Regions from separate parts of the Homo sapiens genome. Here regions 1 and 2 are each linked to region 3. The links come from fine-mapping of genetic effects on gene expression. A gene starts in region 3. Each other region holds a variant in brackets. All regions are shown on one strand. Distances are between the middles of the regions.

Region 1 (8,177 bases), 46 kb before region 3:
GTGCCCCAGATCACGTGCCAGACCTCATGGAGAGGCTTGGATGTCCATCTCCCATCTGACGAACAAGCTCAGTTTTGAGGGCCTCGTCTCTCCCTGCCATCTTTGCTTTTCCTCTCCAACCGAAATCCCACTTAATTCCTTCAGGCGCCCCGTCCATCCTGCCTCCTCCCCATGTCCACCAGCTGCTCCCTTTTCCCCTGTCCTTTGGCAGGATCTGAGACTCCCAGTGTGGCCTTAGACACCACAGGGCCCGCCCCATAAGGTTTCAGTTTTACGCAAAGTTCTGCGTCTCCCTCCCTATTGAAACATGGATCCTGTGGCAGGGGCTGCATTCAGCATGCCTTGTACCTGCCCCTGGCCTTGGCACTGAACACAAGACACTTGTTAAACTGACACCCACTCGATGCTTGCTTAATGGTCAATGAGTGAGGTGCCTCAAAGAGGGGCAACACCAGACGAGCGCCCTGGGAACCCTCCCTGAGGATACTACACAGGTGCAAAGGAACCAATGGTCTCAGATTTAAGATGCAGACACACGGACCAGTCACCTTAGCTGGGGCAGTTTGGCCCCAGACCTTCTCCTCCAAGCAGAATTCCTCTCCCTCTCCTCCAGCCAGCCTTTTGCTCCCCTGGGATCATTCAACTACAAAAAGGAATGCTTCCCCTGGGCTCTGGGAGCTGCCTGGGGTTCCCTGTGTGTGCTGAACCCTCTCCCTCTCTCCTGGCCACCACACAGTCACACACATAGTTCTTTTTTTCCTCCGGGCTACTTGCTTCCTTTTGCTGCTGCCCCCAGCAGGCGGGCCCATGCCCAGCAGGGAGGCACACCCGTACCTCTGGGAGCCTCCTATATGTCCTTCTACCCTCCAAAGCAGGGCCTTTCCCAGGGGCTGTTTTGAAGGCTGTAGTTTACTAACTTACACCTAGCTTTTGGCTATATGCCAAGTTAGACAAGGAATACATTCCCTCTGTGCTACCTGCCCCTCACATGCACACGCTGGCTACTCTCATTGGGCAGGTCCATCTATTTACCACTTCTTCCAGCCCTCTCTCAGGTGCTCCCTGCTCTCCGCACCTCTTTCTCTTATAACTCTCCTCCCTAATCCCCCAAAAAGAAGCCCCAACTCAGGAGGGGTCACAGGGCAGCTGGCCTCTTAGGTCTACGAAACCTGAACCCACCAGCCTCCCCCTTTTCTCCTTCCTTCAGGAACTGCAGAGGAGAAACAGTTGACTGCTCCAGTCAGCAGAGCCACTCTGGATGCCAGGGGAAGGCCACCGTCTGTTAGGGGCCCTTAGGAAGGCTGGGGCTAGGAATCATGTGCTTCAGACCTGCCAGGGAGGAAGCGGTCTAGCTACTTGCTATTTGCTGGCTGTGAGATGCTCGGCACATCATGCAACCTCCCAGCACCTCAGCTTCCTTACCTATAAATGGGACTAGTGACAGGTCCTAACCTATGTGTTGGGGCTGCTACAGATGACACGAGTGAATAAATACAGATACTTGGAACGGGCTCCTGGTGCACAGGAAACACTCCAGGGTCAGCTGTAACTCTTATCGTGGTTGTTATTTCCTCAATCCTCACTTTAGGAAGTCACTAGCCTCTGAAGAACGTGAAAGGCAAGGAGCAGAGACCATCATGAGCCAGGTGGTGTGGAAGATTCCACTGAGGTCTGTAATGTGGATAACTGAGAAGATTCACCAGGATGGGAACCACAAGAAATCTGTGTGGGGTTGGAAGGCACATTTGAGGGGTATGATAATGTGCGGGGTGTAGCCGTCATGAGGCTGCGATGGCTGAGGGTCAGGCAGGTAGACACACCCTCCAGGTAGCTGGGCTCACACACTGTTCAACAAAAAGAGCACTTTGGGGCACCGTAGCTCACATCTGTAATCCCAACATTATGGGAGGCCAAGGCGGGACAATCACTTGAGGCCAGGAGCTCAAGACCAGCCTGGGTAACATACAACATAGCAAGACCCTGTCTCTACCAAAAAAAAAAACAAAAACAAAAACAAAAAAAAAAACCACTTTGCAGATCAGAAGTTTAGAAACTCAATACTAGATTCTCAGCCTCACATCTCCCTCCCCATCTCTCAAAGGAGATCTTCTCGGCCCTCTCCCCAGCCAGTGCCCCCTGCCCCTTTCTCCAACAGTCCTTGCAGCTGTTCCCAGGACCCGGCTAAGCCACGTCCTGGGCAGTGACACCCTACACAGGAGGGCAAGACACCCCCTATGTGTGAAGCCATTAACAATTATTAAAATTTAACCCAAGAGATCTTCTACAGCTACAGAAAGGCACCCAGAGAAAAGTGTTCAAAGAACAGAGCTTTAAGTCTTTTTTTTTCATTCAGCAACTAACAATAGTGATGACTCAAGAGAAAGGATATATTTCTTTCTTTCAAAAAATGGTAAGAAATCTTTTTTATGCACTTGCCGTGGAAAATGCTTAGCTCATCAAATTCCTTGTGCTAAAAGGAGCTAAACCAACACCACAGCAGGGCCCTCCCCGTACCAGCCCACTCAGCCCTGTTCTAATCCTAATCCCTGCATAGCAGCAGGTAACGGAGGGTTTCAGTCTGAGGGGTGAAAGGTGTGAGCAGAGCAAGGGAGGGGGCAGCTCAGCTCCAGGACTTAGCCAGAGCCCCTTGACTGAAACTCTCTTTTTGATGGCTCTCTACCACATGTAGTGGATTATGTTAGGTTTTGGAGGGGGAAGATGAGAACAAAGGCCCAAGTCTGAGAGATGACCTAGTATAGAGGTTCTCAGAGTCCCATCTGGGACCAGCAGCATCTGCATCACCTGAGAACTTAGAAATACAAATTCTCAGGGCCCCACCCCAGAATCCCCGAATCAAACACTCTGGGAATGGAGCTCAGCTTGTGTGTTAACAGGCTCTCCAGGAGATCCGGATGCATTTGAGAACTATTCCTCCAGGACTCAGGTTGTGTTTCATTCCAAGGGAAACAAGAAACTGTTCTGTGCCTGGCTAATAGGAAACAAACCACAGGTGGTCCCAATTTCATTCCCTAGGTCGTATCATTTTGAACTCAGGGTGAGTGGCTCTATTGATTTTAACATGGCAATAAAGGCAATTAGTCTCTTTTTGCTGTTTAGGAGCAAAAGACAACAACGCCTGCAGAAGCCAGTGGCCCTGGAGGGAAAGCAGCTCAGAGGTGGAGAGAAGCACCAGCTCTGTCTTCCAGGAGCCCTCCCTTATCAGCCCCAGGCTCTGACGGGTGGGTAGTTACTTTCTCTCCTCTCAGGTTAACCAGCCCCTTTCTTCCATCCATCCTCTTGACTGTCTCCCTAAACTCCACTTCCCTTTGAAACAGGCTGTAGGCAGGAGATCCAATCACAGTGGGGTTGGCTGAGGCTCCAAAGTGACCCCCACCTTGAGACACCTAAGACAAGAGTGTCTAAAATCACAGCCCTGCCGCCTGTCTTGTCTCTGTGGTTCTCAAAGCTCAGACAGGATGGGTGGCAACCATGGCTGAGCCAGGGCTTCAGTGAGGCTGCACCAACTTCAGATTCTAGGCCGTAGAAAGGTCAATTAACACTGGCAGGCCTCAATTTCCCTGTCTATAAAATGGACAAATAACCATCTAGTAAGTGCTCATTAAATATCAGCATTTCTGGCCTGAAGAGAGAGCCCTCTGAGTGGGAGCGTGAAAGGGCCTAGATGCCAGGATTCCAGCCCCGCTGCCTTCCACACAGCTGTCCCCTTCCCACCCCTGCCACCCTGCTCCTTCTCCAGCTCCTTCTGGAGACTTGGGTGCACAGGAGGAGTTCAGTAAATAGTGTGAATTAAGGGGAGATAGATGGAAGGAAAGAGACACATGAACCATGTATGACTCAGGCAAAGACTGAATTGATCTGTGTTGGTATTTGAGGGGGAAGGAAATGGCTAAACAAAACAAACTGTGTTTACCACCATGAAAGGAAGCCCAAACAGTAACCAGCTAATGGCAGGTGAAAACACAGGAAATTCTGAAAAGTGTGTAAGAAAGGCACTGTGTTTTTTTCTTCTAAATAATTCAAATGGTTCAAAAGCTTACTCCTTTCCCCTCTAAAGAGCTCACTGTCCATGGAGACGTCTCTGGGAGCGTAGTGTAGCCCTACCTCATACCATTTTTTTCCTCACCTGGCAAGGTCCCTGCTTTTTCTCAGGGCTCGGGGGCCCTGCTCCTGTCTTCACTGATCTGCTTGCTCTCTGTCAGTATCACTGGTTAACAAATGACTCTATATCCGTTCCACAGAATGGTGTGCAGCCATCCCAATGCTTACTGCAGCTACATGATATCTGTGTTCTGTCGTCTTCATCTTA[T/C]AATGCCTAGAACTTTGAGGGAAATCATTATATAATGAAATGAAGAAACCACCAAAAACTGTGTACCTATGCTTTGATTTTAACTATATAAAATATGAATTCATCAGAATAAAGACAAAGATAAGACTCAAATGAAAACAGTTTGTTAGGTGGTAGGATTATAATCGTCTTTTCCCTTTTTTCATTTTTTTATTTTTATTTTTTAGAGACAGGGTCTTGCTCTGTTGCCCAGGCTGGAGTGCAGTGGCGCAATCATGGCTCACTGCAGCCTCAAACTCCTGGGCTCAAGCAATCCTACTGCCTCGGACTCCCGAGTAGCTGGGACTACAGGCATGCGCCACCACACCTGGCTAGTTTTTTATTATTTTGTAGAGATGGGGTCTTGTTTTCTTGCCCAGGCCACTTTCAAATGCCTGGGCTCAAGTGATCCTTCTTCCTCGACCTCCCAAAGTGCTGGGAATACAGGCATGAGCCACCACTCCAGGTCTCTCTTTTATATAGTGTGGTGGATGTTGACTTTATACTTAAAATTTTTTTAAAACATATGGCAAATATTATAAGGTGTTTGTGCCCCACACCCCTGCCACCAAATTCCTGTGTTGAAATCCAATCCCCAATGTGATGGTATTTGGAGGTGGGGCCTTTGGGTGGTAATTAGGTCATGAGGGTGGAGCCCTGATGAATGGGATTAGTGCCCTTATAAGAAGAGGCCAGAGAGCTGGCTTGTTCTCTTTCCACTGTATGAGGAATGCAAGAAGTCAGCAGTCTGCAACTTGGAAGAGGGTCCTCACCAAAACCCGACAGTGCCACCACCCTGATCTCACCCTCTATCCTCCCAAACTATGAGAATAAATGTCTGCAGTTTATAGTCCACTCACCCTCTGGCACTTTGTGGTTGGATTTTTTTTTTTTTTTTTTTTTTTGAGACAGAGTCTCGCTCTGTCACCCAGGCTGGAGTGCAGTGGTGCGATCTCGGCTCACTGAAACCTCCACCTCCTGGGTTTAAGCGATTCTCCTGCCTCAGCCTCCTGAGTAGCTTGGATTACAGGTGCCTGCCACCACACCAGGCTAATTTTTGTATTTTTAGTAGAGACAAGGTTTCACCATGTTGGCCAGGCTGGTCCTGAACTCCTGACTTCAACTGATCCACCTGCTTCAGCCTCCTGAAGTCCTGGGATTACAGGCGTGAACCACTGTGCCTGGCCAGCACTTTGTTATAGCAGCCAGAACGGACTAAGATGTCAGGCTTCCAAAATCTACTGATTTTCCCATGGAATATACAATTTTCAGAAAAGCATTATTTTTCTAGGATAATGAAGGATGAGGGGTCATAGCCCATGTGAGAACTACTTACCTGGAGACACCAAAGCCTTTGGAGCCAGGGACATGAAAGAGGATGCGAACTTGCCATGGGGACTCCAGACAGTGGAATGGAGGAGAAAACAACAGCTAAATATAAGGGAGAAATTCCCTACGAGTGGAGCTGTCTAATAACAGAATTGCCAAGGTCCAGTCTCCTGACCATGAAGATGTATGGGAAGAGGGTATTAAATAATCATCTACCTGCAGACACTGGGGAGCTCAGGTGCTTCCAGATCTCATTTCATACCACAACAGGCTGCAGTGTAAACATATGGTCAGTCAGCGGAGGACTGAAGCCTCAAACTCAGATGTCCCAGGGCCTGGACTGCTGCTGCACGAGAGCTACACCAGAGCTTCCAAACGGTGCTTCTTTGCATGCCCAGGGTTGGCTGCCTCCAGCCTGTTGGCTCACCCCAGTATGCCCTACAAATATCATCAGTTTCCACCCTTGCCATGAGACAGAAAGGTGGGGAGTACCTCTTATCACAGCAAAGAGGAGGAGATGGCTTCCTACAAAAGCTAGTAAATATTTCATCAGAAGGAAGTCTGTCTTCACAGGAATTGTCCCAGCTAGACTTCCAATCCCTAACCCTGATTTTAAGAGATCCACCTGATAAATGCGTCTTCAGGAACAACAGCCAAAAACAAAGACTGACCTAAACGTGGCTGGTGACAGCGAGAAAGGGAGGAGAGCCATGAACCGCAGAGGGCCAGCATTGAGAGAGTCCAAAGTATTGGTCACGCTTCCATATCCTGGCTCATGTTACAGCCAACTTTTGTTTACCAGGCCTACAGTCCCTCTTCCTGTCATTCCCAGCTTCCTATTTTAATGTTCTTTTTTTCTCTGTTCACTACTATTTAGGCAGACAATGAATACAGATAACAGCGACAGTGAAAAAATTCAACTGAGTTATCTGCTACTGGGGATTACCTGATCCATCGGGAAATCACAAGTTGACAAGAGGACAAAGAACAGGGTGTACCTCATTGTTGTCGATTTGCTTATCTCAAGTTGCACCCACCCCCCATCCTGGCTACCCATGCTCAAGCCTATGACCAGGAGGGAGGGGAAGCACTTGCCCCCGTGGCTCCCCACTGCATGGACGTTATCAGGGGTCTTGCTGGATGGTGGCCAGGCACCTGTTACTATCCTGTGGAATTTACACAGCTAGGCATGGTCAGAAAGGAAATCCATGGTTCAAATTTTTATCAAAATTCGGGTAATTTTTCAGCTAGCTCAGCCAACCATATGCTTTCAGGAAATAACAATTGTGGGGGCAGGGGGTGGTAAAGCAGGCTTCAAACTGATTTAAACCTGATCCCCTGTCCAAAGAGCATTGTACAACTGAGCAGGTGTCTCCATTCACACTTCCACCCTCTCCAGTTACATGGCAAAGGGCTCACAACTCCCAGACACTCAGCCAGCCAGCATTCACAGAGAGCCCACTGTGAGCTGCGCCGGGCGGGCCAGGGACAAGGATGTCACATGGCGCTGCCTGTGCCATGTTACAGTGAGGGTTTGGTTGAGGCCATAAGGCAAATCAACGATATCAAAGACACAAAACCACACACATAAACAAAAAACCACACACTTAAACATAGTAACACTTTGAGACGGTCATGTCCAAAAAGGCCTGAGGAGCTGGTCTAATATGAGGTCCGGAGGAAGAAAGGTAGGGTCGGGCAGGGACCTGCAGTGACCCAAGGATGTAGGAGCAGAGGCTGGATGCCCCAGCAGGGCCCAAGTGTGAGAAAGCTGGAGGCCCTGGGCATAGACTGCGAAGAAACCAGTTGGGCAGGAGTGAAAACTGAAGAGAAATGATGGTTGTCAGGCGGAGTCAGGGGGATGCTATCCCATGAGGAGGCTCTCAGGTGCTAGGCTAGTGAGTTCAGACTTGACTCACCAGTCAAAACACAGGAACACTGACCATCTTACACACTGCACACCAGCACAGAACAGCCACAGAAATGGGGGAAGGCCCATTTTTGGAGTTGACAGTGACCAGTTAAATGAGATGCATGTACCATTGCTGAGCCTCATACCCACCTGCCAGGTGGGCAACATCACCTCTTTTTTGGAAGCGAGGAAACCCCATTAGCCTTGAGCCTTGCATCACATTTCCAAATGACTCAGTGGTAGCCATGAAGTAGAACGAACCCAAATGATGAATGGATATACAAAATGTAGTATATCCATATAATGCAGTACAGTATTTGGCAACAAAAACGGAGGAAGTGCTGATACACACCATGACACAGAGGAACCTTGAAAACACCAGGCTAAGTGAAAGACACCAATCACAAAGACCACACACTGTACGATTCCCTTTATATGACAGGTCCAGAACATAGAAAAAGAAGGCCGGTGGCTGCCAAAGGTTGGGGGAGAGGAGAACAAAGTGACTGCTAATGCAGTGATGAAAATATTCTAAATTTAGATAGTGGTGATGGTTGCACAATCCTGTGAATATATTGAAAACTGCTGAAT
Region 2 (8,177 bases), 140 kb before region 3:
TTTGGTAGAGACAGGATTTCACCATGTTGCCCTGGCTGGTCTCGAACTCCTGAGCTCAAGTGATCTGCCCGCCTTCACCTCCCAATTCTGCTGGCATTACAGGGGTGAGCCACCGCACCTGGCCTACACTGGTCTTAAACCAATGAAGTGACTTTGCTCTCTCTAGCACCTGTCACAGCATTTAGTCAACAAATGGCTTTAAAGCCCATGCACTGGTAGCAGAGGGGCTCCAAAAGCATTTCATAACTGAATAGTAAACTCAAAAGTAAGAGTGTGTCAATTAGGTGTCAGTTTCACCATAAACACCTCTTTCCTCTGCTTTCCCCAAATGATTCTTTCTTTTGTGGATGATCTCAAAACTATTCTCTTCCCCTCGCATTCCAAAGAACCTGGCAATTTTGCCTCCTAGATTTGACCTAAGGTTTGTTTTTAAAAACTGGCTCCCCCGCAGAAGCCAAGCTTTCGTTTTAGAGCACAGGAGGCAAGAGATCAGGGTTCCAGGCTCTTTCTAACCTTTCTGGACTCCATCGTCTCATCTTTAAAATGGGAATATTTTACTTCATCAGCCTGAAGCAGGGGCCTGGACTAGATGGTCTCCTTTGGAAGGAAAAATCAAATTCAGCTGTTTGTCTAAACACAGAGGGCACTGGGAGTGCCGACCGTGTTGAGGTGTTCAACAAATACGGAATCAGGGGTCCTAGCTGAACCCCACTTACAAGCTGTGTGCCTGTGTACATCACCTTTCAGAACCTCTGGTTTCCACATGTAAAATAGGAATAAGAACACCTACTGCCTGGCAGAGTGATTATCTCACGTGTGGCTGTCACACTCAAGTGTGAGTGTCCTCTCACACTGGAGAGGACCAGGCAGAGTGTGGGGCATGCGGGGAGCTTGTAAGAAATCTGTGTTCAGTCACTAAATGTGTAAGTTATTGGTATTCTAGGAGCCTGTGACCTGCGCTTTACCTGGGGAGACAGGTCTGGTTCGGTGGTGTGTTGGTAAATGCCTAACAACTGGCTCTCTAAGCAAAAAACAAAGTGAAAAACCAAAGCATTTGCTGGTATTCATGGTGTAAACACTCCCGCTGATTTCAAGGTACCACGATGAGTCACTGAAGGCTCAGCGCGGAAGAGATGCTACCAATTGGCTGGGTGCCAGCTGGCTCAGGCACACCAATGACCGTGGGCAAGAGCTGGGTTGGAGGGGTGGTCTCAGATGTGTCCTGACTTGCTGGGATGGCTGGAAAGCTGAGACACACATGGTTCTCAGCTGACGTGGGCCTGCTTGAGGTCTTGATGGAGAGCCGGACACTTGGCTAGGTATGTCCCCCGACAGCTGCATGCTCTGGAGGAGGGAAAACTCTGCTCCCAGAGCACTAGGCACAGCCATTCTGTGGTGGCCCTGACCAGGGGGACCCCGGGACAGAGCCCTAGGCTTTCAAACAATGTCAAAGTTCAACTTGCTTTCGAGTCCGCATTTCTGCAGCCTGGAGCGCTGGGCCTGCTGAGTCGCAAGCTGCCTCTCCCATCGGCTGTGACCTTGGGTTTGCTGGGCCTGGGCAGTGTCTGTGCAGTGTCTATGCTCACTGCCCAGCCACCAATGTGCTGCAGGAAGTGTCTTCGTGGAAACTGGCTTTGGAGGCCCAGTCCTCCTTTCCCTGAGGTGAACCCTGCTGGGCCCCTCCCTCTGTCTCTCCCCTGTCGCTGTGTGCCTGGGAATCTACTGACACGCTTCCCTCCCCTCAGGCCCTCAGGTGAGAACATCTGCCCTGGCCCCCACAGGATGCAGAGTCCACCTGCTGGCCTCTGACCAGGAGCTCAGACTGGGCTGAAAGAGCAAATGCCTTTCTCCTTCACAGCCTGCAGCCTGTTCTCTGGCCTGCCCATACCCACCCACGCCACTCTGCCCCCACTCCATTCGCCGGCATAGTAGGGCTGGTCCCATAGCCATCCCCACAGAGCTGCCTCCTCCTGGGTTACAGGAGGTGCCATAACCGACTCAAGGGGCCCATGCTCACAGACATGGAGGTGTTTCCCAGGCTTCTGCTGCAGTGAACACCCTTGAACACTCACCGTGTCGCCCATGTATGTCTATAGTGGGAGGACACATTTCCAGCTGTGAGGGGAATCACTAGGTCAAAGATATGCACACTTAAGTTCTGAGGAGTGTTATTAAATTTCTCCCAGTTGACACTGCTAACAGCAACCTGGGAGAGGGCTTATTTCCCCACACCCTTGCCCATACAAGGTTATCAAACTGTTTAAACTTTGCCAAACTGACAGGTAAAAAAGTCCCTCACTGGAGTTTCCATTACTCTTATAATGAGTGAGGCTGCGAATTGTCCTCTGTATGGGTGATGATTTGAAGGAGGGAAAAAAGATGTGTGTGGCACAGAGGAAGTGGGGCACATAATCTGCTGGATGGCGGGGATGGGGGAGGACGAATATGGAGTCACTGCAGGTGAAACACAGGAGGGGTCTGTGGGTTCCTTGCAGCTGGCACAGCCTGTGCAACCTCTCCTGCACTTGATCTTCACTCAGGTGGAAGAGGCCAGAGAGAAGGAGCTGAGGCTGAGTCTGTGCGCTGTTGTGAGTGAGGAGGAGGTGGGAGGAGAGCCCAGGAAGCTGCTGGTGGGCAGCTGCCCCTTCTGGTTCTCCCCCTTTCCCTTCCCCGCATGTACACAGGCTGCTTACATGCCCTCCCCGCCTCCCAGGTACTTCTCAGCCCCCAGAAGGCTGGCTTCTGTTCCACTCCCTCCACTGTCTCTGTAGACACTCTCCTGTCTTTGCAAGGCCATGGATGACTTTAGGAAGAAAATAAAGGCAACTGGCTTTTGAACTGCCACATGACATGGGCAGCTCTGGGGAAGCCTCTCCCCGCTCCTGCCCTGTGGCTGCAGGTTCTGCATGCCTTTTGGGTGATTTTTTTATTGATTGATTGATTGATATACTGGTTAATGGATTGATTGATAGGGTCTTGCCCTGTCAGCCAGGCTGGAGTGCAGTGGCACGACTGTAGCTCACTGCAGCCTTGACTTCATGGAATCAAGCAATCCTCCCACATCAGCCTCCTGCATAGCTGGGACTACAGGCAAGCACCACACCACCCGGCTAATTTTTTTTTTTTTTGGTAGAGACAGGGTCTCACTATGTTGCCCAGGCTGGTCTGAAACTCTTGGCCTTAAGTGATCCTTTCGCCTTAGCCTCCCAAAGTGCTTGGGATTATAGCTTTGAGCTACCACGCCCGGTCATCCACATTTATTGACCTGAATAAAGTGTGCTGGACAAACTGTTCAGTGAGAAAAGCCAATTAAATAATCTGGAAGCATAGTCACCCAAATGTTATCGCTGGATTTTTAACATTTCAGGCAATTTTATTAGTTCCTTTTTCATATTTTTCTTCTTCACTTGAAATTTTTACAATCAGTATGTCTTATATCATAGCAACAGTAAGCAAAGCTATTAAAAGTAACCCCAGATGAATTATTTTCAATCCTGTGCCTTCAGTGTACCTAACCAGAAACCTCAAAATCCACTTTAATGACTTTAGTTACCTCCCTAACCTGCTCTGGGCCACCCAATTATATGGCTTCTGGACATTTTTTGAACCCTATTCCGAGGAGGAGCCCCTGCAGCAGCCTTCTGGGTTTGCTTGAGCTCCTGCAGGTTCTCACCCAGGAGGAAGGCAGCGGGGGTGGGGGGCAACCCGGTTTGAAAGGGGTGGTAGTGGGCTGCAAACCACATCGGCAGGTTGCTTTGCCTCACATTGACAAAATGTCTGTTGTCCAAGAATAGGGTAGTTGACAGAAATGAAGGGATCCCAAATCCTCTCTCCATTGAGTCATCAGTGCTCCTGTTCTCAGTTCATCTCTTCCAGTCTACCCTTCACTTACCTCTAGAAATATCTTTCTAAAACATAAAACTGTGCTGTTTAAAGCTAGCAGGAGGCTACTCATTCTTACAGGACTGCCTACCAGATGATCAAGATGCAGTGACAGCTCTGTACAGAGCCCTCCATCAAAGTTTAGTGAGTATCTCATATAAAAGGTGGCTGTTTATATGCATGATATACCACAGGAGAGATTTTTAAAGTACATAAA[T/C]AACTAGACTATAAGCCTATAAATGACAGGTTCAGATAAGACAGGGATGGCAATGGGCAAGAATTATCGTGTTACAACTGAAAACTTCATAGAGGAGGTGGCATCTGTGCTGGGTCCTGCAGGCAGGATATACTTCTACAGTTGTTTTACTTTTTAAAGCATTCCATATGAATTATCTGATTTGATATTACTGACTCCTGGATATAGGTAAAGCAGATATTATTATGTTCATTTAAAAAATGGGAAACTGGGCCGGGCGCGGTAGCTTATGCCTGTAATCCCAGCACTTTCGGAGGCCGAGGCAGGAGGATCACGAGGTCAGGAGCTCAAGACCAGCATGGCCAATATGGCAAAACCACGTCTCTACTAAAAACACAAAAATTAGCCGGGTGTGGTGGCGGGTGCCTGTAATCCTAGCTACTTGGGAGGCTGAGGCAGGAGAACTGCTTGAATCTGGGAGGCAGAAGTTGCAGTGAGCTGAGATCGCACCATTGAACTCCAGCCTGGGTGACAGAGGGAGACTCTGAATCAAAAAAACAAAGGAAATTGAGCCTGCTGGAGGCTGTTGGATTTCCTCGACACTGGCACTAGAATATAGGACTTTGGGCGTTTATGTTGTAACTCTAAGGGTACAAGGACATGATTTCTGCCTTCTAGAAACTTGTGGTTGGGAATGGGACTCACACTTGTAATCGCAGCATTTTGGGAGGCTGAGGCAGGTGGATCACTTGAGCCCAGGAGTTCAAGACCAGCCTGGGAAACAAAGTTAGATGAGACCCCGTCTCTACAAAAATACAAAAAAAATTAGCCAGGTGTGGTGGCGCACGCTTGTAGTCCCAGCTACCCGAGAGGCTGAGCTGGGAGGATCGACTCAGCCCTCGAGCTCGAGGCTGCAGTGAGCTGTGATTGCGCCACTGCACTCCAGCCTGGGTGACAGAGTGAGACTCTGTCTCTAAATAAAAAATAAAGAAACTTCCAACTGATCTCGGAATCTTGGGATAGCAAATATGGGGCACAGGAGCAGTCCCATCCCTCCGTGCTTGTGGCAGACACTGCTAGTAGACCATGGCACTCTTTCTTGCTAAAGGTGGGTAAGACCTCAGAATCCTCAACACTGAGGCAGCTACTAACAGTTGATTAAAACTGACCTGTAAGGTGCAATCTATTTATTCTCTCTGATTTACGCCAGGAGGTAGATACAGATGTTCTGTCTGGTGAGAAGGAGGGGCAGAAACCAGGTCATAGAAGCATCTCTCCTGGCTGGCACAAAGCGGAACTCAGCTCCTAGACAGAGGTGAAGGCTTCACCAAGAATGTGACTAGATGGCAAAAACAGTCATAATTTGCAGAAAGTCCATTGACCAAAAGCAGGCCTGAGAATTCTAAAGTTTACGGACTTTCCCCTATGGGAGGAGAAGCTGGAAAGCATCCCAGGTATTGAGGAGAAAGGAAGCAGGATCTGTGTATAATCAGTGAGGAACAGGAAGCGCTTATCTGGGGCCAGTGAAATACTCAACACAAAAGAACAGCCAGGCAGCCTGGAGCTGCCTTCCAGCCACAGAGCTTCAAGGGTCTCTTAGAACCCTTCCCCGCGGCTCCTGCAGGCCCAGCAGCTGGCCAAAGTCAACAACTCCTGGGCACCGGGAGATGGGAAATGTCTGAGGAGGCCTCTCCATAGACGGGCAGTTCCAGGAGAGCTCTCCGACCCCACAGGTGAACAAGAACACAGGAGAATAAGGGTCACACCAGCCACCTCTATACAGGGCCATTGCTCCTGATAAAGGAGCCTGAAGAAGGGGTCCTGCACCCTACACTAGTGTGTATGCAAATGTGGGTGCACATGTGGCTTACATATCTCAGGGAACAACACGATTTTATGTCCATATTGAAGGGAGGGTGCAGGAAGTTATGACGGACAGTGGAAGGGCTGAGAAGTTCCCATCTCAATACTATTAAACAACACCTCCTATTTTTTAGTACCTAAAATATTTACATTAATCGGCCTTAAAATATTTAAGTATTTAAAATATTTAAGTATTTAAGCCAGTATTTTTGGCTGGGTGTGGTGGCTCACGCCTGTAAGCCCAGCACTTTGGGAGGCTCACCTGAGCCCAGGAGTTCAACAGTAGCCTGGGCAACATGGTGAAACCCTGTCTCTACAAAACACAACAAAACAAAAATGTATATATAGCCAAACAAACAAAATTATAAATACATATGTATGTGTATTTTTTATGTATGTGTATACACATGTATATACGTATACACAATTACACATGCATGTTACAGGCAAAGTTTGATATCTTGGATACTGTTGCTTACAGTGAAGCTCCATTTTTAAAAAGTGGAAAAAAGTGAATCAATTCAAAGAAAAATAATTATGTAAATAGTATAGGTGGTATGTGGCAAAGATTATGTGAGGAAGTGACATCCAGGGAATATGGTTGTAGGACTGCATGTTTGTGGCCATCCAGGGGCTACTGCCAGTTGTGGATGAGGGCACCCCTAGGAATTGGAGAAAGAGGTTCTGCACACAGACTCAAAGGTCAGAGCATCCCAGGACACACCACTATTGTCTTCCCAAATTGCTTCTCACCGAGATCTACCATCTCTCTCTTCTCATGTACCTGCAGGGTCAAAACCTCAGACATCTTTTCCTCCACCTTCTTCCTCACTTTGTCATCTAGCCCATCAAGTCCTGTGTTTTTTCAATCTCAACTACCACTGTCTTGCAATGGCTCCCTAACATTCACCTTGCCCCACACTCGTTCCTCCAGGTCGGTCACACACCCTGCTGCCCGCTGACTTTCCAGCTCACAGCCAGGCTCATTTCCTCGCTTAGCTTCCCCTAAGCTCTTTGGGGATAGGCATCCAATCTTTTTTTTTTTTTTTTTAACCTGCCGCTTCAGAAAGGCATCCAGGCTGGGCACGGTGGCTGACGCCTGTAATCCCAGCACTTTGGGAAACCGAGGAGGGTGGGTCACCTGAGGTCAGGAGTTCGACACCAGCCTGGCCAACATGGTGAAACCCCGTCTCTATGAAAAGTACAAAAACTAGCCGGGCATGGTGGCGGGCGCCTGTAATCCCAGCTACTCACGAGGCAGAGGTTGCAGTGAACCGAAATCGTGCCACTGCACTCCAGCCTGGGTGACGTGAGCGAGACTCCGTCTCAAAAAAAAAAAAAAAAAAAGGCATCCAATCTTATTCGCCCTTTGGGTCCCCACGGCCTTAAGCACAGCATATCATTTGTGAGAGGTGCTTGATGACTATTGCAGGGTGTTCTAGGATTAACCAAATTAGAGGTGCAAGTCCTTCTCTCTGGAGGTGCTGCCTCCCAGGCAGCTCTAGTGGAAATGTTGTCTGCAAAGGCAATTAGCGGTCACACTCCTGGGGTTGTTGCCACAGACCCTAATTTAGCTGACCTAGGGTGAGAACAGAGAAACCATCACCTTTTGGGAGAATGATGGATAGAGGGAATGGGAAAGTCCGCTGCCACTGGGGACCCTATCAGGTGAGTAAGACTCCATTTACCTAAAGTGATCAAATAAAAAACATTTACCAATATCATATCTGCTTCTATTTTTATATTTTCCCCTACAGTTAATACATTATTAAAAAACAAACAAAAACATTCTAATCTTTTGTAGCTGGGGGCCTTGATGCTGGGATTCTTCTGTTCAGCCCCACTGTGGAATACAGCACTTCTGAAATTCATACTCTGTTTGATATTAATATCATTTCAGATAAGCAAATAAGTATGTGCCAAAGCCAGGGACAGGAAACTGTCTGCATAAATCTTGGATAAACAGATTTCTTTAAAGAAAACATTTAGTGATGCGTTACCTTGTGCCAGATACTCCATGTGTTATTTCGTTTAACCCCCACAGCCTTATAAGTTGATGCTATTATTATCCTCATTTAACAGATGGAGGGATTAAGGTACAAAGAGGTTAACTAACTTGCCCCAGTCTATCCCAAACCCAAAAGCCAACTCTTTTTTTTTTTTTTTTTTGAGACAGAGTCTTTCCTCTGTCGCCCAGGTTGGAGTGCAATGGTGCGATCTTGGCTCACTGCAACCT
Region 3 (8,177 bases):
AGGCTTGAAAGGAGGCTGGTGCCTGGGCCAGGGCAGGGAACAACTGCAGAGATGAACAAGGACAGTCAGAGAGGCATGCAGAGACGAAAGGTTGGCTGCCTCAAGGAGGGGCTCCAAAATCCCACACGGGCCTGGATTTAGTAATCAGGAATCTCCAGGATCAGCAAGAATCAGCCTTTGGAAGTTCTTAGGCGAAAGAACACATAATGTGATAGAAGGAAGGAAGGAGGGGACACTAACAAAAATCTGTCTCACTTGGACTGTCAGAGAGAGCAGACAGCAGAGCCTGGATGAATCAAAATGCCCTAAAGAGAAATGGGTGCATGGAGAAATAGCCTTGAGGGAGCCATAGTCATATTTGATGGTGAAATAGTCATTTCTGGTGACTTTAACTGCATCAGGACTTGGCTGAGGGCTGATGCACAGATGCTAGTGCCTCCCAGACCCCTCTCTCTAGATATCCTAATAGTAAATGGAAACCTGAGACTTTAGCGGCATTAACTCTCCCCCATACGCAAAGTTACACGAATCCCAACAAAACTTGCAGAACTAAGCTACATGTGTGGGCACTGGTGGGAATCACTGAAAACCTAAATAAGACCGCAGCAGCTCGTTGATCCCCCCCCCCCTTTGATTGGCACGCACCTCTTTTCTTTTAATGAGAAAAAGCAACAGCCATAGACCCACATCCAGTTTTCACTGCAAAACTGACACTTACATTCAGGACTTCCTGGGGTGCTCCAGGCCAGCAGGGCCAAAGCTGCAAGACCTCCCTCCCTCTCGGGGCAAAACTGTGAGGTCTGTGTAGTCCCACTCCCCATTCCCCTCTCTCTCAGTCAGAGTCTCTTCCACCGCCCCCCGTCAATCCCCCTCCAACCCATCTGGTGATGGTAGCGCCCCCGCTGAACCAAATGTGGAGGACTTGGCTCTCCACCGACCGCTGTACAATGACAGCAGGAATGGCCATTCAGCACCTAGCCTTTCTCTAGCACCCTTTAATTATCGTCGTTATTTTAGGGCAGTCTTAGCATAAAGTGTGTTGCTGGGACCCTGCTCCTAAGAGGCTAACACTCCCTGCCCCCTTACCCACCGTCGACAGCGAAGTGGCAGGCAATGGGAATCTGGGCGGGAAGCAAAGAACTACTACGATTCACATCGCGCCCAAGCAGCAGCACGCGGGAACCTGGCACACAGTAGGTAGGCGTTCACCCAACATCTGTCATCGGACCCAGCACCTGGGCAGGGAGCCTAGGGGTGGAGTGGCGGCTTGGGGGACACAAAGGCCTCGCCAGCCCCCAGCTGCGCCCCTCGCAACGCGGGGGGCGGGAGTTTAGAGCCAGAGAGAGGGGGCGAAGGAATCCGCCCTCATTTGCACGTCGTCTGGGGCCCGGTCAATTTGCTTAATCACCGCTCTAAATGCCAGCGGGCAGCACACAATACGCGCCCATTAACAGGTTTAAAGTGTCGCAGCGCTCGCTTTAAATGAGAAAAGCAGGCGACAAAAGGGGGAAAAAGCCAAGTTCCTCAACTTGAAGAATGCCTTGGGTCGCCTCGAAATCATCTACGCGAGTTTAAAATTCGGAGCTAGCTCCGCAGAAAAGCTGAGGCCCCGGTGCGAGGGCTGGGGGTGGGAACGGGGGCTGTGAATAACCCGCCACGAAAACTGGGTTTCTTAGGAACCAGCCTGCAGCCGCCCAGTGAACCCGGAGTCGGAGGACAACGTCGCCAACCCAGCTCCCTAGGCCCCTTGCCCCACTGCCAGAGAAAGCTGACCGATTTCCAAGAAGGAAAGCGAGACCCCCCCAAAGCGGGCACAAATCCAAGTTTCCTTCGGTGCAGGCGAAGAATTCTGGAGGCCAAGGAAGATCCCAGAGGTGGACTCCAAAACCTCAACCCGCAAGAGGGGAAAAGTTAAAGTAACTTTACTTTCATCCAGGCACTGGCCAGCGCAGCCTCGCGCTCGGCCGCCAGAGAGTAGTTCAACTCCGCAAACAAGTTCTGCTTGGGATCGGCGCAGAAGGCCCCATCCCCCACTCCATGGCCAAGCCCGGGGGCGCATCCTGCGGGCCGCGGCCTCCCACCCTCCCCGGCGCGCCCGACGGGCACTCACGGTGCGCGCTCCTCCGGGAGACAGGGGTCCGTTGGAGAGGTACGGGCTGCTCAGGTCCGGGATCATCAGGAAGGGGTACCCAGGGTACGGGGGTCCTTTAAAGAACGCGCTGTCCTGAGGCCTTCTCACTGCGAACAAGACCAAGGCGAGGTGAGGCCCAGGCCCCCGGGACTGACAGCGCCGCGGCAGGGGGCTCGAGGCGGGAGCTGGGGACCCCAGCGCCCCCCACGCGCGCCCCACGGGGGCTGCCGCCAATAAAGGCGGAGGGCAAGGGTGCGTCCACCCAAGCAAGGGGGACGGTGGGCCGCCCGGGCTGAGCAGCGGAGCGCAGCGGGAATCGAGAGTGGGGGGCTGTCCCAGCGGGCACATACCTTCGGCGAAATAGTCCCGCGGCTTCTGGAAAGTGTCCCGGACGGGCTGCGGGCGCCTCTCCGCCTGCGGAGGAGACACAAAGGCAAGAGCGGGTGAGCGGACGCAGGGCCGGGATCCCCCGGGGGTGGCCGCGGTGCTTCCTTACCTCCGAGTCCGAGCTGCTGCTCTGGTTCTCCGACTCGTTGACCAGGGACGACTTGACCTCGTCTAGGTCCCGCTGCGCCGAGGCGCTATCGCTGCTCGGCTCCTGCTCCTCGCCCCCCTCGTCCTGGAAGGGGATCAGCTCGTCGTTCGCCCCGAGGTCGTCCCCTCCGCCGGCCGCCCCGGCGCTGGAGCCGCCGCCTCCCCCGCTGCCGCCGCCGCCGCCGCCGCCCCCGCCGCCGAGCTGGGGCATGGTGGGGCCGCGGGCCGGGGCCGCCGCTCTCGGAGCCCCTAGCCGCCCGCGCCCTGCCCGGCCCGGCCCGGCGCCCCTCCCGCCCGCTTGCGGGCCCGCTGCGCTAGCCGCCGCAACAAAGTTTGACAGGGCGTGGCCCCGCGGGAAGCGGGCCCGGCGCTGCCCGGCCGGGGCGCAGGCGGCTCGGCTCGGGCCCCTCCGGCAGCGCCGAGCCTAGGGCTCCCCAACTCGCCACCGCCGCCGCCTGCTCCGCCGGGGCGTCCCAGCCCCTGGCCCGCCGGGGAGGGGCGAGCGGGGAGGGAGGGAGGAGGGACCGCCGGGCTGGGCAGGGGGGCCGGAGGGAGGAGCCCCGGCTGCAAGCTGACACCCGCGCGCCTCGCGGAACCCGGAGAGCTGCGGTGCGCGCGCACACACACACATACACACGCACTCACACTCACACGTTCACACTCGCATCTTCCAGGGGCTGCGTCTCCCTGCAACGTGCACCGCCCCCAACCCCCTCCTGCGCCTCACACTGCACCCTCGGCGGCCCTCCCCACGGCCTCCCTGGAGTCCTGGAAGTCTTGCGCCCACCCCTCCGCATCCCCTAACTTTCTCCCAAAGAACCTCCAGAACTCCGCGCAGGTTCCCACCCCCTCCCACCGTATCGGCGCGCGGGCGGGCGGCACTGCCCCCTGCGGGAAAGCCTCGGACGCACATACTGGCCGCGGGGCCCTCCCCCTGCCTAGAGTCCCTCCGAGTGCGCGAGCTGATGCACGGACTAGGACACTGGGGACATCTATGGAACCCCGGAAAATGCCCGGCGGCTTTCCGCGCCTTTTTCCTGTGGGGTTCCAACGCGACCCCCGGCCCAGGTTTTCAACCTTGTACAGATATACAGATTTCCCTGCTGAAATCTTGAAGATCACCTTTTCTTCATTGTTTGGGACTAGGTCCTAAATCGAAAAATCGCGGTCTTGGGTTCCAAAAGAATTTGGATTTGGTTCATTGAGAGGGAAAATTGCCTGTCCAGTGATCTCCGAAGCCATTCACAAAGCTGCGTGAGTAGCCAGTGAACACGAGAAAAATGCTCAACCAGCCTCATACCTAAGTAATGCCTGTGGTGCGAGCGCCACGGCCCGCGCCTGGAGTTCCATCTACTCCCGAGGCCTAGGCAGGAGGATCGCTGGAGCCCAGGAGTTTGAGACCAGCCTGGGCAACATAGCAAGACCTTGTCTCCAAAAAAAAAATTTTTTTAATAAAGAAATGCCTGTTACAATGACATTAAGATGTCGTTTCTCTCCAACCTGTGCGGGAAAGTTTGAGGAAAATGAATATCTTGTGTTATCCTCCGTGGGGAACTATTAGAGCATAAACTTTGAAAACAGCTTGGAAGGCAGTATGGAACTATGTAAAACTATTTTCAGCCCAACTGGCAGAAGAGTTTCTACAGAGGTGCCCGCACATATGGGCAAAGCCACATATGCTAGGTTCAAAGCATCAGAGAGCTTGGTGACATGCATTCTTCATCTTTCTTTACAGTGACAGTCCATGCAGCTGGCCAGTTCTATGCAGTGTCCCCGCCCCTCCCCCCACCCATACACACACACACACACACACACACACACACACACACACACACACACACAGGCACATGGACCAAGATTGATTTTGGAGGAACATCTTTAAATGAAACACTATATATGACACTCACTATTTTATTTTTGTTTTTAAAAAAATTATACACATTTATTTCTGCGTAGAAAAAAATCTGAGAAGATGCAAATTATTATCAATGACTATTTCTGGGAAAGGATAAGTGAAAGGAGATAGTTTTCTGGTTTCTATGAACTTTATAACAAGCAGATATGCCTTTTCTAATTTTTTACACAATACATGAGTACAGTCTCATAAAGCGTTTTCAAATAACAGATGTATCTTGAGCAGTATCGAGTAACAAGTAAAAGTTCCTCTTTCCCCCTCAGGACACAGGACCCTTCTAATTAACCACTTTCAGTTAACTGCCTCTGGTTAACCACTGTCACTAGTTTGGTATATATCCTTCCAGACACTTTCCTAGGCAGTTATGAACATATGTAAACGTATTTACAGATATTCTGATGTACATACATAGAATCATACTCTTTGTATTATTGTGTGTTATTTTATTTTTATAAGATTTAAAAGTCAGACGATTTTTCATGTTTATGGTCCATAAATATATGAAAAACCTATTGTACTAGTTTTCTGCTGCTACTGTCACAAATCACGAAAACTTGGTGGCTTAAAACAACAGAAGTTTATCCTCTCATAGTTGTGGAAGACAGAAGTCCACTGTCAGTTTCACTGAGTAGAAATGGAGGTGTTGACGGGGCCATGCTCCCTCTGGAGGCTCCGAAAAGAATCTACCCTTGTCTCTTGCAGCTTCTGGGGGCTTGTGACCACATCACTCCCACCCTTGCGTCTGTAATCACATTGCCTTCTCCTTTTTTTGTCTGTGACAAATTTTCCTCTGCCCCCTTCTTGTAAGAAACCATACTTGTGGCCGGGCACAGTGGCTCACGCCTGTAATCCCAGCTCTTTGGGAAACCAAGGCAGGTGGATCACGAGGTCAGGAGTTCCAGACCAGCCTGGCCAACATGGTGAAACCCTGTCTCTACCAAAAATACAAAAAATTGGCCAGGTGTGGTGGCAGGCGCCTGTAATCCCCGCTACTTGGGAGGCTGAGGCAGGAGAATCGCTTGAATTTGGAGGGAGGAGGTTGCAGTGAGCTGAGATGGCACCACTGCACTCCGGCCTTGGCGACAGAGTGAGACTCTGTCTCAAAAAAAAAAAAAAAAAAAAAAAAGTGATACTTGTGATAGCATTTAAGGACCACCTGGATAACCTGTCCATGTCAAAATCCTTAACTTCATATCTGCAAAGACCTCTTTTCCTTAAACATTCACAGTTTCCAGGGATTAGGTCATAGATGCAGCTTTGGGAGTAAGCCATTATCAGCCTGCCACACCTATAAACCAGAAATGCAAACGGAAACAGCATTGAGATAACCAGTTTTCATCTGTCAGATTGGCAAAGGAAGAAAAGAATGGTAACACCCAGCATTGGCCCCTATACTAAGAAGCACATAGATGCTGGGCCATTGTGTAACAGTTCTAAAGAGAAGTTTGGTAATACCTGTGAAATACCTTTAAAAGTGTGAACCCTTTGACTTATCCACGTACTTCTAGGATTTTATCTGAAGGAAACAACTAGGTACAAAAATAAACCTGTAGAAGTGTGTTCATCACAGTGAAAAAATCTAGAAACAATTTCAATGTCCCCTATAGGGAATTATTAAGTTAAATCATGGTGCATTCATCTAATGGAATGTTATGACATTGTGGAGATATATTTGTCAATATAGAAGGAGGCTCATAATGGTAAGCAAAAGTAGCAAATTAAAATTAACATGTAGACTTCCACTTCCCATTCTAATGGGGTATTGATGTCAGATTGACTCCTTCATCAAGAACAACTAACTATAAACTGGATAAAATACCAAAATAAAACAACAAAACCCAGCTGAGTTGAAGGCATCACTGTCAACCAAGTCAGCCAGGACGTGAGGAGTCAAAATACCAGAAGGGAAATTCATTCAAGCGAGTTTGTATTCACTGCTGTTTCATCCCCTCAGAGAATTTGGTGATTTGTAGCACCAGGCATAGAGGCCAAACCAAAAACAACCATCTAGAGCAGCATACTACAGCTTGCTGCCTGTTTTTGAATGGTCTCAGCTAAGACTTTTTTTTTTTACTTTTTTTTTTTTTTTTTTGAGACGGAGTTTCACTCTTGTTGCCCAGACTGGAGTGCAATGGTGCCATCTCGGCTCACTGCAACCTCCACCTCCCGAGTTCAAGCAATTTTCCTGCTTCAGCCTCCTGAGTAGCTGGGAATGTAGGCATGCACCACCACGCCCGGCTAATTTTGTATTTTTAGTAGAGACGGGGTTTCTCCATGTTGACCAGGCTGGTCTCGAATTCCTGACCTCAGGTGATCCGCCCAAGTGCTGGTTTTACAGGTGTGAGCCACGTCGCCCGGCCGCTTTTTTTACATTTTTAAGTGGTTGAAAAAGATCATAAGGGCCAGGCGCAGTGGCTCACGGCTGTAATCCCAGCACTTTGGGAGGCCGAGGCGGGTGGATCACCTGAGGTCAGAAATTCAAGACCATCCTGGTCAACACGGTGAAACCCCGTCTCTACTAAAAATACAAAAAATTAGCCGGTCGTGGTGGCGGGCGCCTGTAATCCCAGCTACTCAGGAGGCTGAGGCAGGAGAATGGCGTGAACCCGGGAGACGGAGCTTGCAGTGAGCCGAGATCGTGCCACTGCACTCCAGCCTGGGCGACAGAGCGAGACTCCGTTTCAAAAAAAAAAAAAAAAAAAAAATTAGCCAGGCGTGGTAGCAGATGCCTGTAACCCGGGAGGCGGAGGTTGCAGTGAGCCGAGATCGCGCCGTTGCGCTCCAGCCTGGGCAACAAGAGCGAAATTTTGTCCCAAAAAATAAAAATAAAAATAAGGATAATATTTATGACACATGAAAATTATATGAAATTCAAATATCAGTGTTGATAAAGTTTTATTGGAACATAGCCATACTCCTTAGCCTATACATTGCCAATGGCTGCTTTCACAAAACAATGATGGAGTTTAGGACATGTATTGCTTAATGATAGGGATACATTCTGAGAAATAGGCAATTTCATTGCTCTGTGAACATATGGAGTATACACAAACCTAGGTGGTATAGCCTACTACACACCTAGAGTATATGGTATAGCCTGTTTCTCCTAGGTTACAAACCTGTTCACCATGTTACTGTACTGAATACTGCAGGTAACTGTAATACATTGGTACGTGTGTATCCAAACATATGTAAAGATAGAAAAGGCACAGTAAAAATATAGTATTACAATTTTATGGGACCCTATCATGTATGTGATCCCTCATTGACCAAAACTTTGTTATATGGTGCCTGACTGTAGTTGCAACAGGGACAGTATATGCTCTTATCACTTCATACTGCTGCTCAGTACACCACAAATCACGGTGATACAGTGTTTTCAGTGCCATGCATATCTCTGTACTGCGACATTTATTTTAAATTTTTATTACCAGGGCATATCCATTATGTCAAAACAAGAAAAGAAAAGTAGATGTATTCATCCGTTGCCACACTACTATAAAGAAGTACCTGAGACTGGGTAATTTATGAAGAAAAGAGGTTTAATTGACTCACAGTTCCACAGGCTTAACAGGAAGCATGACTGGAAAGCCTCAG

Which allele goes with the higher level. Positions count from the first base shown, and alleles are read on the strand shown. Sizes are in standard deviations (SD) of each study's normalised expression.
For the expression in left ventricle of the gene that starts at base 3,169 in region 3, allele C in region 1 goes with a higher level than allele T (small effect, 0.18 SD a copy in GTEx).
For the expression in tibial artery of the gene that starts at base 3,169 in region 3, T is the low allele of the variant in region 2 and C is the other (small effect, 0.23 SD a copy in GTEx).

The links. PIP is the estimated chance that this variant, and not a neighbour inherited with it, causes the effect. A credible set is the group of variants that fine-mapping cannot tell apart.
Region 1: its variant is the best candidate, but not a certain one, in a credible set for the expression of TCF7L1 in left ventricle (GTEx, PIP 0.50).
Region 2: its variant is the best candidate, but not a certain one, in a credible set for the expression of TCF7L1 in tibial artery (GTEx, PIP 0.68).

What each region holds. Positions count from the first base shown.
Region 1 is chr2:85,174,060-85,182,236 of GRCh38, reverse strand. The region is part of intron 3 of TCF7L1 (transcription factor 7 like 1); the gene reads right to left. Among named protein-coding and RNA genes, the nearest start is that of TCF7L1-IT1, 8.3 kb to the left of the region's middle. RefSeq lists an enhancer at 1-599 and a silencer at 708-845. The variant T/C (reference allele first, on the strand shown) is at 4,328.
Region 2 is chr2:85,267,583-85,275,759 of GRCh38, reverse strand. The region is part of intron 3 of TCF7L1 (transcription factor 7 like 1); the gene reads right to left. Among named protein-coding and RNA genes, the nearest start is that of TGOLN2, 56 kb to the left of the region's middle. The variant T/C (reference allele first, on the strand shown) is at 4,100.
Region 3 is chr2:85,128,384-85,136,560 of GRCh38, reverse strand. It overlaps TCF7L1 (transcription factor 7 like 1), which reads right to left and starts at 3,169. Exons shown (of 12, transcript NM_031283.3): 1 at 2,628-3,169; 2 at 2,482-2,545; 3 at 2,111-2,238. The coding sequence starts at 2,876. RefSeq lists enhancers at 836-1,409, 1,410-1,984, 2,560-3,134 and a silencer at 3,500-3,569.